Regions from separate parts of the Homo sapiens genome. Here region 2 is linked to region 1. A link means that fine-mapping ties the variant in region 1 to the expression of a gene that starts in the linked region. Tissue or cell type: lung. Region 1 holds a variant in brackets; the other region holds the start of a gene. All regions are shown on one strand. Distances are from middle to middle.

Region 1 (8,253 bases):
GTTTCCCTGCTTTAGTTGTAAAATATCTAAGAGAAAACTGTGTAAGGAAATGCACATAAATACCTGTCTACTCCATTAACTATCAGATAATATGGGCAATTTGTAATTAAACACCTTTATGTCTAAGCAGTTGTTATTTGGCCGAAAGGGTAGTTGTACCTTGGGAATAATGAGTAAGGCATCAGCAAAAGCTTGGACTCCAAGACGAGCTCTTCCTTTTATACTGTTCTTATATGTAACAAGAGCTTCAGCCATTGCCACTTCAATTGCACCAGCTCCAGGAACCATACAACCTATTGGAGAGAAAAAATATGATTGGCAAGACATGCCATAAAGACCAAAAGAGAGAGAGAGACAGAAAAGCAATTCACTATTTAAGTATGTTCTATTATCTACAGAAACCAAATAAATTGCACAGCTTAGTAATTACTCAGTTATCTTATGAAACATCCTGAAGTTATATGTCATTAAATAAATAGGCATAGTACAGATAACTGGCTGCAAACAGCTTATTTTGCTCCTTACCCTCTGGTAAACAAGAATAATTTATTTTTACCTTCATCTTACTCTTTTATAACTACTTTTTTTTTCTGAGATGGAGTTTTACTCCATCACCCAGGCTGTACTGTAGTGGCATGATCTTGACTCACTCCAACCTCTGCCTTCCAGGTTCAAGTGATCCTCCTACCTCAGCCTTCTAAGTAGCTGGAATTACAGGCGTGCACCACCACACCCAGCTAATTTTTGTATTTTTAATAGAGATGGGGTTTCACCACGTTGGCCAGGCTGGTCTTGAACTCCTGACTTCAAGTGATCCACCCACCTCCGTCTCCCAAAATGCTGGGATTACAGGTGTGAGCCACCACACCCGGCCTTATGACTACTTTTAAGAGGTATTTATAATTTATATTGACAGGTAACTGATTACAATATCTGACATGAAAATTCTTTAGACCAAGATCATTTGTCTAGTTTTTGATAGGGAATTCTTGGAACTCAATGAAGTATTTGTTTTTTGTACTGCAGCAGAACTCAAACTGCTATCTAAGAAAAAATTTAAGTGGTATTATTCTAAAGCAAGAGTTTTGGTTAAACACATCAAATTTCACATCAGGATATCACTTTTATATCTGCTACTTGTATGGTTTCATAAAGTTTATGACTCTTATTTAAATCAGAAAACTTGCTTTAAAACAAAACAATACGAAAACAATCTCCCCTTTTATCTCACATCATTTTAAAATTACTACCCCCTTTCACTGCTTCACTTCACAACATAACCGCTCAAAGAGTTGTTTACCCACCAGATGATTACATCATTACCTCCCATTCACATTTTTTAAAAGTTCCTTGTTAAATACAGAATATACTCAAAAGAATATTTATATGTATGATATAAAGAATAAATGCACAAATAAACAAATGTATCCATGTACCTACCACCCAGCTTAAGAAAGAGATTACTAGAACCTTTGAAAACTTCCCTGATCCCATTCTCTGTGAAAACACAACATATCAAAATTTTAGCATCCCTAAAGCAGTACTTAAAGAGAAATTTATATCACGAAACACCTATATTAGGAACGAAGAAAGTTCTCAAACTAATGACCCCAGCTTCCACCTTAAGAAACTAGAAAAGGACAGGGTCTGGTGGCTCGCTCCTATAATCCCAGCACTTTGGGAGGCCAAGGCAGGTAGATCACTTGAGCCCGGAAATTCAAGACCAGCCTGGGCAACACAGTGAGACCCCATCTCTACAAAAAACACAACAATTAGCCAGGTTTGGTGGCACACACCTGTAATCCCAGCTACTTAGGAGGCTAAGGTGGGAGGACTGCCTGAGCCTGGGAAGTCAAGGCTGCAGTGAGCCGTGACCATGCCACTGCACTCCAGCCTAGGTGACAGATCGAGACTCTGTTTCAAAAAGAAAAAAAAAAAAAAAAAACTAAAAAAGGAAGCACAAATGAAACCTAATATAAGCAAAAGAAAGGAAATAATTAGGATGAAAGTGGAAATTAGTCAAATGACAAATGTCAGAAATGAGAAAATTTATATCACTACAGATTCTACAGATATTAAAAAGAATAACAAATGAATATTATGATCGACTTTATGACAATAAAGTTGAAACTGTTGATCAGAAGTTAGTAAACTTTCTGCAAAAGGCCAGTTAATATTTTTCAGGCCATACCATTTCTTTTCCAACTATTCAACTCTGCCACTGTAACACAAAAATAGCCACAGACAATATATAGACAAATGAGTATGGCCACATTCCAACAAAACTTTATTTACCAAAACAGGCAGCAAATCAGATTTAGCTCATAGATAGTAGTTGATGATCCTAACTTAGATGAAGTGGACAAATTCTTGAAAGACTACAAACCACTAAAGCTCACTCAAAAAAAACAAAACCTTTATAGCCCTACGTCTATTAAAAAAATTGAATGTGTCATTAAAAGCTTTCCCACAAAGAAAACTCCAGGCTCAGATGGCTTTATTGACAGTCTACCAACATTTAAGAAAGAAATAATACAAATAATACCAATTCTCCACAACAACTTTACACTTTCAGAAATTTGAACAAGAAGAAAAACTTTCCAATTCACTCTATGAGTACAGCATTGTTCTAACACCAAAAAAGATAAAAGCATTACAAGAAAAAATATACACAGACCAATACCCCTTATGAATACATATGTAAAAATTCTTAACAAAATTTTAGCCAATTAAATCAAATAATACATAAAAAGGAGAATACACATAGTACCATTATTCACAATAGCCAAAAGGTAAATGCAACACGTTTCCAATAATAGACAAATAAAATGTGGTATATACATACAATAGAATATTATTCAATGGTAAAAAGGAAGGAAATTCTGGCACATGCTACAACATGAATGAGCCTTGATGACACTATGCAAAGTGAAATAAGCCAGACAAAGGACAAAAACTGTATGATTCCAATTATATGAGATACATAGAGTAAACTCATAGAGACAGAAAGTAGAATGGTGGTTACCCAGGGCTGGGGAGGTGGGTAGGGAATGGAGAGATATTGTTTAATGGGTTCAGAGTTTCAGTTTTGCAAGGAAAAAAAGTTCTGGAGATGGGTGGTGATAATGGTTAGACAACATTGTGAATGCACTTACTAACACTGAACTGTACACTTAAAAATTGTTAAACTGTAAAT[T/G]TTATGTTATGTATATTTATCACAATTTAAAAAATAATTTTAAAAAAATGTAATCCATTAATTTTTTAAAAAGTAAAATGCATTATAACTAAGTATGGTTTATCCCAAGAATGTAAGGTTTGACATTTGAATCAATCAATGTAATTTACTGTACGAGAAAACTAAACGAGGGCTGGGTGCAGTGGCTCAGGCTTGTAATCCCAGACCTTTGGGAGGCCAAGGCAAGCAGATCACCTGAGGTCAGGAGTTCGAGACCAGCCAGGCCAACATGGTGAAACTCCATCTCTACTGAAACATACCAAAATTACCCTGGCATGGTGGTGCATGCCTGTAATCCCACCTACTCAGGAGGCTGATGTAGGAGATTCGCTTGAACCTGGGAAGCAGAGGTTGCAGTGAGCCAGGATTGCGCCATGGCACTCCAGCCTGGGCAACGAAGTGAGACTTCATCTCAAAAGAAAAAAAAAAAAATCATATGATCATCTCAATAGATGCACAAGAAGCATTTGGCATTTATTCTCGTGTGTGTGTGTGTGTGTGTGTGTTTTGACAAAAAACAACAACAACAAGAAGTTTTACTCTTGTCGCCCAGGCTAAAGTCCAGTGGCACGATCTCGGCTCACTACAACCTCCACCTCCCAGGTTCAAGCAATTCTCCTGCCTCAGCCTCACGAGAAGCTGAGATTGCAGGTGCCTGCCACCATGCCCAGCTAATTTTTTTATTTTTAGTAGAGACAGTTTCACCATGTTGGCCAAGCTGGTCTTGAACTCCTGACCTCAGGTGACCCATGCACGTCAGCCTCCCAAAATGCTGGAATTACAGGTGTGAGCCACCACGACCAGCCTGGCATTTATTCTTGATTAAAAACTGTCAGCAAACTAGGTGCAGAAGGGAGAACTTCCTCAACCTGATAAAAACCTATAGCTAACATCATACATAATGGAGAAAGATTGAATGCTTTCCCCCTAAGATCAGCGATGAGGAAAGGATGTCCATTCTCATTATTTCTAGTCAACATTATACTGGAGGTTCTGGCCCATGAAATAAGGGAGAAAATTTTAAAATATCCATATTGGAGAGCAAAAAGTATAACTGTATAGCAGACAATGTAATCACTTATATAGATAATTCAATGAAGCCTATAAGAAAGCTAATTGTGATTTAGCAAGGTTGCAGAATTCAAGATCAATGTACAAAAATAAAATATATTTCTATATATTAGCAACTAACAATCAGAAATGGAAATTTTAAAAATAGCATATACAATAGCAACAAAATACATAAAATATATAGAGATAAATATGGAAAAAAGTATGTGAGGCTCATATACTAAGATCTATGAAATATTGCTGAGATAAATTCAAGAAGACTCAAATAGATAAGATGATATTCATGAGTTAGAAGGCTCATTATTAAAATATCAACTATCTCCAAATTGGTCTACAGATTTAATAAAATTCCAATCAAGCAGGGTGTAATGGCTCACACCTGTAATCCACGCACTTTGGGAGGCCAAGGCGGGAGGATCGCTTGAGCCCAGGAGTTTGAGACCAGCCTGGGTAACAACATAATGAGACGTTGTCTCTACAGAAAATAAAAAAAAATTAACCAGGCATGGTAGTGCATGCTTGTGGTTCCAGCTACTTGGGAAGCTAAGGTGGGAGAGTCACTTGAGCTCAGCAGGTCAAGTCTGCAGTGAGCCATGATCACACCACTGCACTCCAGCCTGAGTGACAGAGTAAGATCCTTTCTAAAAAAAAAAGTTCTGATCAAAATCCCAGCAGCAGTCTTTTTGGTAGAAATTGACAAGCTGATTCTAAAATTCATATGGAAGTCATATGGAAATGCCAAAGACTTAGAATGACCAAAATAACTTAAAAAAAAAATGAGAGTTAACAATACTGATTTCAAGATTTATTATAAAGCTACAGTCGTCAGGACAGTATGATATTAACATTAAAATAGACAAATGCATCAGTAGGACAGAAAAAAGAGCACAGAAATAGAACCACACAAATATGAAAAACTGATTTTTTATACACGAGAAAAGGCAATTCGGTGGTGAAAGTAAAGTCTTTTCAGCAAATAAGACTAAAACAATCTGATACCTTTATATGAAAAAAATGAACTTGTATCCATACTTGCACCATATACAAAATTTAACTTAAAATGAATCACAGACCTAAATGTAAAACATAAGACTGTAACACTTTTAGAGGAAAATCTTTATGACCCTAGGTTAGGTAAAGATTTTTCAGATACCACACCAAAAGCATAATCCATGACAGAATAAAAATAATAAATTAGACTTCATCAAAATTAAGAACTTCTCTTTGAAAGGCACTGTTAATAATAAAATAAGCCACAGAGGAGAAAAATTTGCCAATTATATATCTGAAAAAGCACTTGTACCCAAATTATATACAAAGAACTCTCAAACTCAACAATAGTATACTAACACAAATTTTTTTCTTTTCTTTTCTTCTCTTTTTTTTTTTTCTGGAAACAGGGTCTCACTCTGACGCCCAGGCTGGAGTGCAGTGGTGTGATCATAGCTCACTGTAACCTCAGACTCTTGGGACTCAAGTGATATTCCTGCCTCAGCCTCCTAAGTAGCTGGAACTACAGGTACAGGCCACCACGCCTGGCTATTTGTGTGTGTGTGTGTAGAGGCATGGTCTTGCTATGTTGCCCAGGCTGGTTTCCAACTCCTGGGCTCAAGCAATCCTCCCATCTTGGCCTCCCAAAGTGCTGGAATTACAGGTGAGAGCCACTGTGCATGGCCAACAATCCAATTATTTAAAAGGGCAAAAGATTTAAACAGAAAATTCACCAGATATACAAAGGGCAAATAAACACATTAAAAGATGCTCAACATGGGCTGAATGTGGTGGCTCGTGCCTACAAATCCCAGCACTCTGGGAGGCTGAAGGGGGAAAACTGCTTGAGGCCAGGAGTTCAAGACCAGCCTGGGCAACATAGACAGAACTCATCTCTACAAAAAAAAATTAAAAATTAGCCAGGTGTGGTGGCATGCACCTATCGTCCAGCTGAGGTGGGAGGATCACTTGAGCACAGGGGTTTGAGGCTGCAGTGAGCCATGATTGTGCCACTGCACTCTAGCCTGGGTGACAGAGCAAGACCCTGTCTTGAGAAAAATATATATATGTGAGGTTTGCAGCCAGGCGCAGTGGCTCATGCCAGTAATCCTAGCACTTTGGGAGGCCAAGACAAGTGGATCCCTTGAGCCCAGGAGTTCAGGACCAACCTTGGCAACATGGTGAAACCTCATCTCTACCAAAAATACAAAAATTAGCCAGTTTCAAAACCTGGTCTCAAAAGAAATAAATAGATTAAATAGATTAATAATAAAAATAAAATTTAAAAAGACTTAAAGGCCAGGCATGGTGGCTCACACGTGTAATTTCAGCTCTTTGGGAGGCCAACAAGGGCAGATCGCTTGAGCCCAGGAGTTCGAGACCAGCCTGGCCAACATGGCGAAACCCCATCTCTACTAAAAATACAAAAAATTAGCCAAGTGTGGTGGTGTGTGCCTGTAATCCCAGCTACTTGGGAGGCTGAGGCAGAAGAATCACTTGAACCTGGGAGGCAGAGGTTGCAGTGGGCTGAGATCGCACCACTGCACTAAAGCCTGGGCAACAGAGGAAGACTCTGTCTAAAAATATACATATATACATACATAGGTGTGTGTGTATATATATATACATATATACACACATATACATGAGGTTCATATCAATCACAAGAAAGAGCTTACCATCTTCAATGGCATTTTTGATAGCACGAAGTCCATCTCTTATGGCATCCTTGACTTGTGTGAGAGTATGCTTATTTGGTCCTTTAACCAACAAGGTAACAGAGCAAGGGTTAACACACTCCTCAATAAAAGTGAACTTTTCTTCACCCTAAAGGGTGGCACAAAAATATATAACTTTAATATTTGATGTCATTATAAAATCAACAATTTATACTAGAATACAATCTTCATTTGAATTTTTCTTATCAAGCATAACTAAGGGAGTTAAGTTATATCTGAACTCTTAACAAACATTTAGGTAAATAAACTGTAAAATCTGTTCTGTGAATTAGATCTCAAAACACAAAACATGAAATAAAAGGTCAAGTAGTATTTTTCTTTAAAAAAGGGGGCTTAGTATTCACTTTATAACCACTGTTCATAGAAATACTCACTAATGTATACTCATACACAAGACCAGCATGTCCCAAGCAATCTACAGTGAGATCTTCAAAAGAATTCACGGCCATTCCACCACAAGCAAGAGAGAGTCTGAAATTACATATATGTCACCATAGCTTGATTATGGAGAACATTAATACTAATTTCTCAGAGAGAAGATATCTAATGCAGAAGACTGTATTGTTACTGTATTGTATTGTTTTGGGTTTTTAATTGTCTAATAAAATTGTCTATATTTATCGAGTACAACATGATGATGTTTTTAAATATGTATACACTGTGGAATGGCTAAATTGAGCTAATTAACATACATATTGCCTATGTGAGGCTTGATTTAGCCATTTGTGTGATAAGAACACTTAAAATCTACTCTCAGCATTTTTCAAGAATCCAACACATTGTGCATTCTCGGGTGGGTTTGCAAAAGATTTTTAAAAAGAACAATATATTGTTATTAACTACAGTTGCCATGTTGGACAATAGATCTCTTGAATTTATTCCTCCTAACTAACTGAAATTTTGTATCCTTTGACCCACATATTCCCAGTGCCCCTCCCCTCCCACTGCCCCAGCCCCTGGTAACCGCCATTCTACTATCTACTTCTATGAGTTCAACTTTTTTAGATTCCATATATAAAAGTGAGATCATGCTGTATTATGTTGTATTGTTTTGTTTTTAAAATCTGTTTTAAAAAGATAAAAACTTTCCTTATACTTCAACAAAGTTCTGCAGTAGGTTAACAACCTTGCTTTTTGACAGTTCAATTATTTACTGAAACTAAAAACAAAATTTGGATTTTTTTATGCCACTGTTTTGTTCAACAACATTTACACATA
Region 2 (8,253 bases), 25 kb after region 1:
TTTTTTATTATTTCTAAAGACAGGGTCTCACTATGTTGCCCAGGCTGGTCTCAAATTCCTGGGCTCAAGTGATCCTCCTGCCTCAGCCTCCCAAAGTGCTGGGATTACAAGCATGAGCCACTGTGCCCAGCCAGTCTTACTTTCTTTTTCTTTCCTTTTTCTTTCCATTTTTTTTTTTTTTTTTTGAGATGGAGTTTCACTCTTGTTGCCCAGGCTAGAGTATGATGGCACAATCTTGGCTCACTGCAATCTCCACCTCCTGGGTTCAAGCAATTCTCCTGCCTCAGCCTCCTGAGTAGCTGGGATCACAGGCGTGCACCAACACGCCTGGCTAATTTTGTATTTTTAGCAGAGACAGGGTTTCTCCACGTTGGTCAGGCTGGTCTCGAACTCCCGACCTCAGGTGATCCACCTGCCTCGGCCTCCCAAAGTGCTGGGATTACAGGTGTGAGCCACCGCACCTGGCCTCTTACTTTCAAGATGGAAATACTCTTAGGATGAAACAGCACTGTGAGTGGAAGAGGTAAGAGACAAAGAACCTGTGTACTTGATGACTGAATTTTGTTATCACACAACCTGACAGTCTCCCTTATCTCTCAATTTTCTATTATGGGAGATAATCATTTCCTTATTGTTCAAGTGAGTTTTAGTCAAGTTGTTTACAGCCAAAAGCATCCTAAGTTGCAAGTACTGAATTAATAGAAAATTCCCAATACTAAACGAAACACAGAGAATCATTTTGACTAGGTTACTCTTTGCTGAAATGGTCCCTGAAAGAGAGAAAACATTCAGATATGGAGAAAAGAGATACTTAATTAGAGAAAGGTAAAAATGTACATGATGTTTTCAGAGGCCAGTGAACGGAGGAGTCTGGCTGAAGTAGATGATTTATAAAGAAAATGAAACTAGAAAGGAAGGTAAATTCACAATAAGTAAAACCTTCAATAATTTTTCTCCAGTGGTTTTATAAAGGTGCATAATTTGGTTTCAACTTTATCTATGGTGTTTTCTTTCTTAATTACCCATGGATACATGGGTAATTTTTTACTTTTTTAGGTCCGTTAAATATTTCATTTTTAAAAGAGGTATATAATTCCAACGAAAGGCATTATTTTGGCCAACAAAGTTCATTATTATTTCCATTTATAATTGTCCAAGAATATCTTAATTAAAATTAACTGTCTAGACCAGGCACGGTGGCTCATGCCTGTAATCCCAGCACTCTGGGAGGCCCAGGCAGGTGGATCACCTGAGGTCAGGAGCTCAAGACCAGGCTGGCCATGATGGTGAAACCCTGTCTCTAAAAAAAATACAAACATTAGCCAGGCATGATGGCGCATGCCTGTAATCCCAGCTACTCGGGAAGCTGAAGCAGGAGAATTGATTGAACCTGGGAGGCGGAGGTTGCAGTGAGCCAAGATTCTGCCACTGCACTCCAGCCTGGGCGACACAGTGAGACTCCATCTCAAAATTAATTAATTAATTAATTAAAACAAAATTAACTGTCTAAAACTCAACCATTTTACTAGTTAAAAAAATAATTTGCCATTCAAAATAACATATAAACTGTGAAATTCTAATACCTCAGAAATGTACAGGTCAGCTTGTTTTAATAACTCTCCAATAATTAGAACATTTGAAGTAGTACCATCTCCTGTGACGTCATCCTGAGCTGTTGCTACTTTTGCTATCAAGGAAGCTGTTGGATGTTGAATTTGCTGGAAAAAGCAAGCAACAGATTTAAAAAGACAGGATGAGATAAGGAAGTAGGTCACCAAAAGCAAGATAACCTAGGGGTCAGTAGCAAAATTAAAAAATGAAATAAGCTTCATTCTACAAGTTTACAAGTTTTGTATTATCAATACCTAAATGTCAAGTCCAAAATTTTAAAAGTGACAGGTAATGAGGCCTGAACATTTCATAAAAGTCTTTGCTTCAGAATGCAATGACATTTCTAAAATAAGATTAAATCATTCAATCTCAAAATGAATACATGTATTAAACTTGCAAAGGATATTTTTATTTTTCCATAATTACAAAGAACATAAGGCAGTGCCCTTAAAAGATATTATTGATTTATAAGTATGCCTAAGTATACAAAGTATGTATAAGTATACAAAGACTTGGAAACAGCCAAAAAAAAAAACTTTTTTTTTTTTTTTTTTTGAGACAGGGTTTCACTCTGCCACTCAGGCTGGAGTGCAATGGCACAATCTCATTCACTGCAGCCTTGGCCTCCTGGGCTCAAGTGATCCTCTCACCTCAGCCTCCAGAGTAGCTGGGACTATAGGCGTATGTCACCACACTGAGCAAAATTTTTTTTTTTTTTTTTTTTTGTAGAGACGGTTTTCACCATGTTGCCCAGCCTGGTCTTGAACTCCTGGGCTCAAGCAATTTGGCCACCTCAGCCTCCCAAAGTGTTGGGATTACAGGAGTGAGCTACCACACCCGGCCAAAAAAATTTTTTTATTGAGGTCTAATTCAACAGTCTTCAGCATATCTCAAGACTGCAGTATTTAGCTCACAGCCTTGGCTTAAAGATACACAAGTTCTACTATGCTTCTAATTAAGGCTTATTAAGGTTTATTAAAGTCAGCAGCATCAGCTCACCATCTCATCGAGCAGCACATTGCCATCTTTGGTGAGTTTGATGTCACCTGCACCAGAAACAAGCCTGTTCAGAGAAGAATGATATTAACTTCATGTGGTAGGAAGACATTCCCAGTGCTTGCCACTCCATTATCCTTAATAGAGGGAACTGGGCTCGGAAAACTTCCACTGTACCATGGGAATATGCCATGGTAATTACCACCATTTGCAGCTCACAGAATCATTTCTCCCCAGATGGACAGATTATGGAGATTTCATTCCAAATGGACTATTTACAGGTTTAAAGATAAAAGCACTTGATGAGTTACGAACTGTGGTTTGGTCAAAGAATACTTGGAAGTCTACAAAGCACAAATTCGCAAATTTCCTGCAGGTTTTAATTTTGGTGAATGTTTTCATTCATTCAGTCACTCAACTTAGTTTCCCTCATCCCTGCATTTATTAGATCACCAAGTTCTATCAATTCTACTACCTAAATATCTCTTGAATCTGCCACCTTCTCTCCATCTCCACTGTTATCATCTCTACTTTGGATGGCATCCGGATATCTCCAAACTTAAATATACCCTCCACACATTTTTCTTTCTAAAAGGCAACGTGATTCAGTCAGTTCCCTGATCAAAAGTCCTCCAATGATTTTTATGTTTTCCATCATTTTCAAGTTAAAATCCAAACACAGCAATGACATACTTGACCTTTCCCAATATCTTCCCTGCCTCATCTACTTTTCCACAAGCAAATCTTCTGGTTCCCTTAATATACCATGTTTTGTTTCGTTTCTGTTGGATTTGCACCATTGGTCTTTCTTATTCCTGAAATTACTTTGCCCAGGCCTTTACTCCCTCTTCCAACTAGTGAAGTCTTATTCTTCTTTCAAGACTGATCAAACATGTTACTTAAGATGCTTTTCCTTCTGCCATCAGTCCCTTTCTTCAGCATAATTATATGCATCTATATATAATTAGCACATCCTACTCTACCACATCCGTCTCTACCACATCTCCTTAAGAACAGAAACCGTTATCTTGATCATTTCTGTGTCCCAACAACTGGTACCTAAGTGACTTATTTTACCATTAATATTATTTTGTTCATTACTATGAGGATGTGTCTCTCCTCTTATACCCTTTTGCCCTCACTGGTCTCTTTTCCTCACTCTTGTCTATAGAAAAGGGTGCTTAATATATACTGAAAAGATGAATAGATCTGAACAACCATAGACACGGGGTATTCAAGTAGAACTTGGATTTGACCCCATGCCTTCCTGGCTCCAAAGCCTGTGTCCTCTCCACTACAATACATTGCCATACAAAAAACAAAACTACTTGTTGAATTTATGGACCAAGGGTATACAGTCTTAAGGAGCAGAGGAGTTAAATGCTTTGTTTCCAATGAGACACTAAATTAACTGACTTTCTAACTGCATATGAACCTTGACGACAAGTCGGGGGTCGGGGAAGCGCCACAGCTTCACTCCCGGGGCCCTCTACTAGGGGAGGCTTTTCTCCTCCACCTGCACCAGGCGAGAAATACCCCCAGAGCAGGGATGAGAATGAGGGAAATCAAGCTCGCAAGAACATCCACAGCGCTACGCGGACGCCTGCCTCAGAGGGCGACAGGACACCAACGGGCCCCTAGCCGCGTAATGGCCGCTCCAACCGCTGTCTCACATTTTCATGGTGCCTTTAGGACCCAAGTTGGTCCGCAGCACATCCTGCAGCCCTCGGGCGGCGCATATATTGACAGCCAAAGCTGCCCGGGCCCGCGCCACCTCAGCCTTGGAGTTGACGGCCTTTATCGCAGCCATAGCCTAACCGTTCAGAGGGAGAAAAAAAAAAAGCCTTAGTCGCGATTCTGAGCAAAAACGGCAATGCGACGCCACGCTCTCTTGAGCCTCGGCCAATCATCGCCCTTACAGGAAGTGACGTTATCATGCCTCGCCCGACGGAAACCAGAATCGTTTTGGGTCTGGTCGCCAAGATGGCGTCCTCCGCCTCCGCCCGGACTCCGGCAGGGAAGCGAGTGATAAATCAGGAAGAATTGCGGCGGTTAATGAAGGAGAAGCAGCGTCTGAGCACCAGTCGGAAACGGATAGAATCTCCATTCGCGAAGTACAACCGTTTGGGGCAGCTGAGTTGTGCCCTGTGTAACACTCCGGTTAAGAGCGAGCTCCTGTGGCAGACTCACGTCCTGGGAAAGCAGCACCGAGAGAAAGTGGCCGAGCTGAAAGGCGCGAAGGAAGCCAGCCAGGGTTCGTCCGCCAGTTCAGCGCCTCATTCCGTCAAGAGGAAAGCGCCGGACGCAGACGACCAAGATGTCAAGAGAGCGAAGGCCACCTTGGTGCCTCAGGTACAGCCCTCCACATCTGCGTGGACCACCAACTTTGACAAAATAGGAAAGGAGTTCATTAGAGCGACTCCCAGTAAGCCTTCAGGACTCAGTTTACTCCCCGATTATGAAGATGAGGAGGAGGAGGAAGAGGAGGAGGAAGGAGATGGAGAAAGAAAAAGGGGGGACGCCAGCAAGCCGCTCTCCGACGCACAGGGCAAGGAGCACTCAGTTTCCTCTTCACGGGAGGTAACAAGTAGTGTGCTGCCAAACGATTTCTTTAGTACTAATCCTCCCAAGGCCCCCATAATTCCTCATTCAGGGTCAATTGAGAAAGCAGAAATACATGAAAAAGTGGTGGAAAGGAGAGAAAACACCGCGGAAGCGTTACCGGAAGGTTTTTTTGACGACCCTGAGGTAGATGCAAGAGTACGAAAGGTTGATGCTCCAAAAGATCAGATGGACAAAGAGTGGGACGAATTCCAAAAAGCCATGAGGCAGGTCAACACTATTTCCGAAGCCATAGTTGCCGAAGAGGATGAGGAGGGACGGTTGGACCGCCAGATTGGGGAGATCGATGAGCAGATAGAGTGTTACCGACGGGTGGAAAAGCTACGGAATCGCCAGGATGAAATAAAAAATAAACTTAAAGAAATCCTGACCATAAAAGAACTGCAGAAAAAGGAAGAAGAGAATGCTGACAGCGATGATGAGGGGGAACTACAGGATTTGTTGTCTCAGGATTGGAGGGTGAAAGGGGCATTGTTATAGGGTTTTAAAGACCCAAGGTTTCTAACAGCCTCTGCTGTTGTATAAAAAGTGCTGTCTCTCAGTAGTATAGCGGTTACTTCATGCCTCAAGATTTGGGTACCTGGATTGCTAAACTGGATTGTTGAGATAAAATGAGCCAGTGAGCTACAGCACTTTGGAAAATTTGTGTAACATGTTTTTGAGGTAAAGTTGTTTTTGAAATTTCTGAAGTGTTATATACCAAAATGCCAACATTTCCACGACAGACTTAACTGTATAATTTCGTTGTAAAATCTGTAAGTTGTAAATATTGTACATAGTTAAATCTGTATTCTGTTTTGAATTTTTTTAATTAATAGAAAGACCAACCGGCAAACTTTCAGATGAATGCTTACTGTGGTATTTGGAATGTATGTATCTTCTGAACCCTACATCAAGTTGAAAAGGTTTGTTTTCTTGTTTCTTTGGTTTTTGTATGGTTTTTTAGAACACTTCATAAACACATAAGTCATTGTAGGTTAATCAGTTCTCTTAGTGTGCTTTATTTTAAAAACATAAGAAAACTATATGCCAAACATGACCAAACCAATGATGGTCAGATGTGGTTGCACATGAGAGTCACCTATGAAGCATTAAAATAATTAAAGTGTCTGAGGCCTTCCCCTTCAATAAATCTGGGATTGGGCCCAGGCAACTGTGTTTTTTAAGCACCCAGGTTATTCTAATATATGCCAGGGTTAGAGAGTAACTGCCCTAAATCCAGAACCCATTTATGTTTTTCAGGTTTTTTCTTTTTCTTTAAATAACACATTCCATAAATTTGCTGTTTCTTGAATGAAGGAAAAAATATTATCTTTTATTTATTTCATCCAGCCTTAAATTTTGTTATTTGGTGGTAAATTAGGGTTCCTTGTTTGCAGGTCCTATCTATTGTAGAAAGAATATTTAAGTTGTCTTTCCAGCAGTAACAATTGGCTCTTGCTGGTCATTGATAGTTTAAATCACTCCTTCCTTTAGAGATTGAGGTACTCAAATAGGAAAAGGGAATTAGCAGTGTTCTGGAGTTGAAATGCATACAGCATATTCAAATAAAAGTGAGCAATAATAATAATAGCTAAGACCTATATATTTCTTAGTATGGGCCAGGCATGGTTCTAAGTGCTTTACATATATTAACTCAATCTAGTTTCCCTAAAGTCTTTTTTTATGGAGAGGAGTACCAAGAGACAAGGTTTGAAAAGCCTTGAATGCTAAGTGAAAATTTTTGATGAAGTTCATATGAAAATGGAGGTTTTGAGCAAAGAATTACATCTGCAAAGAAGTATCATGGGACATTATTAACAGTATATAGAATGGAATGAACACGGAGGGTAGAAGGAAGCTAGGAGCTATTTGAAAACTATATTTTCAAAAGCAAGGTGACAAGACTGATTAGCTGAGGATTGGGAGAAAAGGAATAGAAGTGAAAGCATGTCATAGGAATAGCTAAATTCTTTTGTTGTTTGTTTTTTTTGTTTGTTTGTTTTGAGACGGAGTCTCGGTCTGTCGCCCAGTCTGGAGTGCAGTGGCGGAAACTCGGCTCACTGCAAGCTCCACCTCCCAGGTTCACGCCGTTCTCCTGCTTCAGCCTCGCGAGTAGCCGGGACTACAGGCACCCGCCACCACGCCAAGCTAATTTTTTGTATTTTTTAGTAGAGACGGGGTTTCACCGTGTTAGCCAGGATGGTCTCAATCTCCCGACCTCGTGATCTGCCCACCTCGGCCTCCCAAAGTGCTGGGATTACAGGCGTGAGCCACCACGCCCGGCCAGAATAGCTAAATTTTAGTGACTAGAAGTGGAAGAAGAAAAACAGGAGGGATAAGTATGGGATTCAAGATTTTGTTTGTATTTAGTGTCACTGCCTAAAAGGAGTTATCTAACACTTACTGAACAGTTGCTGTGTACCACAAATTATTATTAATAATTGTCCTGCTGCCTTTGGCAGTCTTCCTCCTTGAGCTGCTAGCTGATCAGTGATAGCAGCTTCTATTTGATGAGACACGGCTTGCTTGCCTCAAATGTGTGAACCCAGTGTTACTCAGAATTTTCCCTTCATTCATCACTATTACTCTAGCAAGAAAGTACAAATATGGGTTTGAATGGTGGGCCCAGTACTGCCTTGGCCAACAATCTAGTGGAGTACTGTCCACTAAAGATAAAATGCGACTGGGTGTGGTGGCTCATGCCTGTAATCCTAGCACTTTGGGAATCCGAGGCAGGTGGATCACTTGAGCTCAGAAGTTCAAGACCAGCCTGGGCAACATGGCAAAACCCCATCTCTACAAAAAATATAAACAAATAATCCAGGTGTGGCATTCACCTGTAGTCCCAGCTGCTTGGGATGCTGAGGTGGGAGGATCACCTGTGCCAGGGAAGGTGGCGGTTGCAGTGAGCTGTGATTGTGCCACTGCACTCCCTCATGGGTGACAGTGTGACCCTGTCTCAAAAAGTAAAAAAATAAAATATAATGCAAGCCATAGATAAATTTTACATTTTCTAGTAGCCAAAGTAAAAAGAAGTGAAAG

What was found. PIP is the estimated chance that this variant, and not a neighbour inherited with it, causes the effect.
Region 2: it holds the start of CCT6B, and the variant in region 1 is fine-mapped to the expression of CCT6B in lung (TOPMed, PIP above 0.99). The same link has a PIP of 0.9 or more in atrial appendage, gastroesophageal junction, stomach, subcutaneous fat, sun-exposed skin and tibial nerve.

What each region holds. Positions count from the first base shown.
Region 1 is chr17:34,932,208-34,940,460 of GRCh38, forward strand. It overlaps CCT6B (chaperonin containing TCP1 subunit 6B), which reads right to left. Exons shown (of 14, transcript NM_006584.4): 9 at 7,410-7,506; 10 at 6,976-7,123; 11 at 160-293. Among named protein-coding and RNA genes, the nearest start is that of CCT6B, 25 kb to the right of the region's middle. The variant T/G (reference allele first, on the strand shown) is at 3,197.
Region 2 is chr17:34,956,977-34,965,229 of GRCh38, forward strand. It overlaps CCT6B (chaperonin containing TCP1 subunit 6B), which reads right to left and starts at 4,484. Exons shown (of 14, transcript NM_006584.4): 1 at 4,281-4,484; 2 at 2,611-2,674; 3 at 1,584-1,718. The coding sequence starts at 4,417. ZNF830 (zinc finger protein 830) reads left to right here and starts at 4,564. Exons shown (of 1, transcript NM_052857.4): 1 at 4,564-6,801. The coding sequence starts at 4,591. The coding sequence ends at 5,709. RefSeq lists a silencer at 4,014-4,308 and enhancers at 4,028-4,077, 4,178-4,397, 4,448-4,527, 4,608-4,857.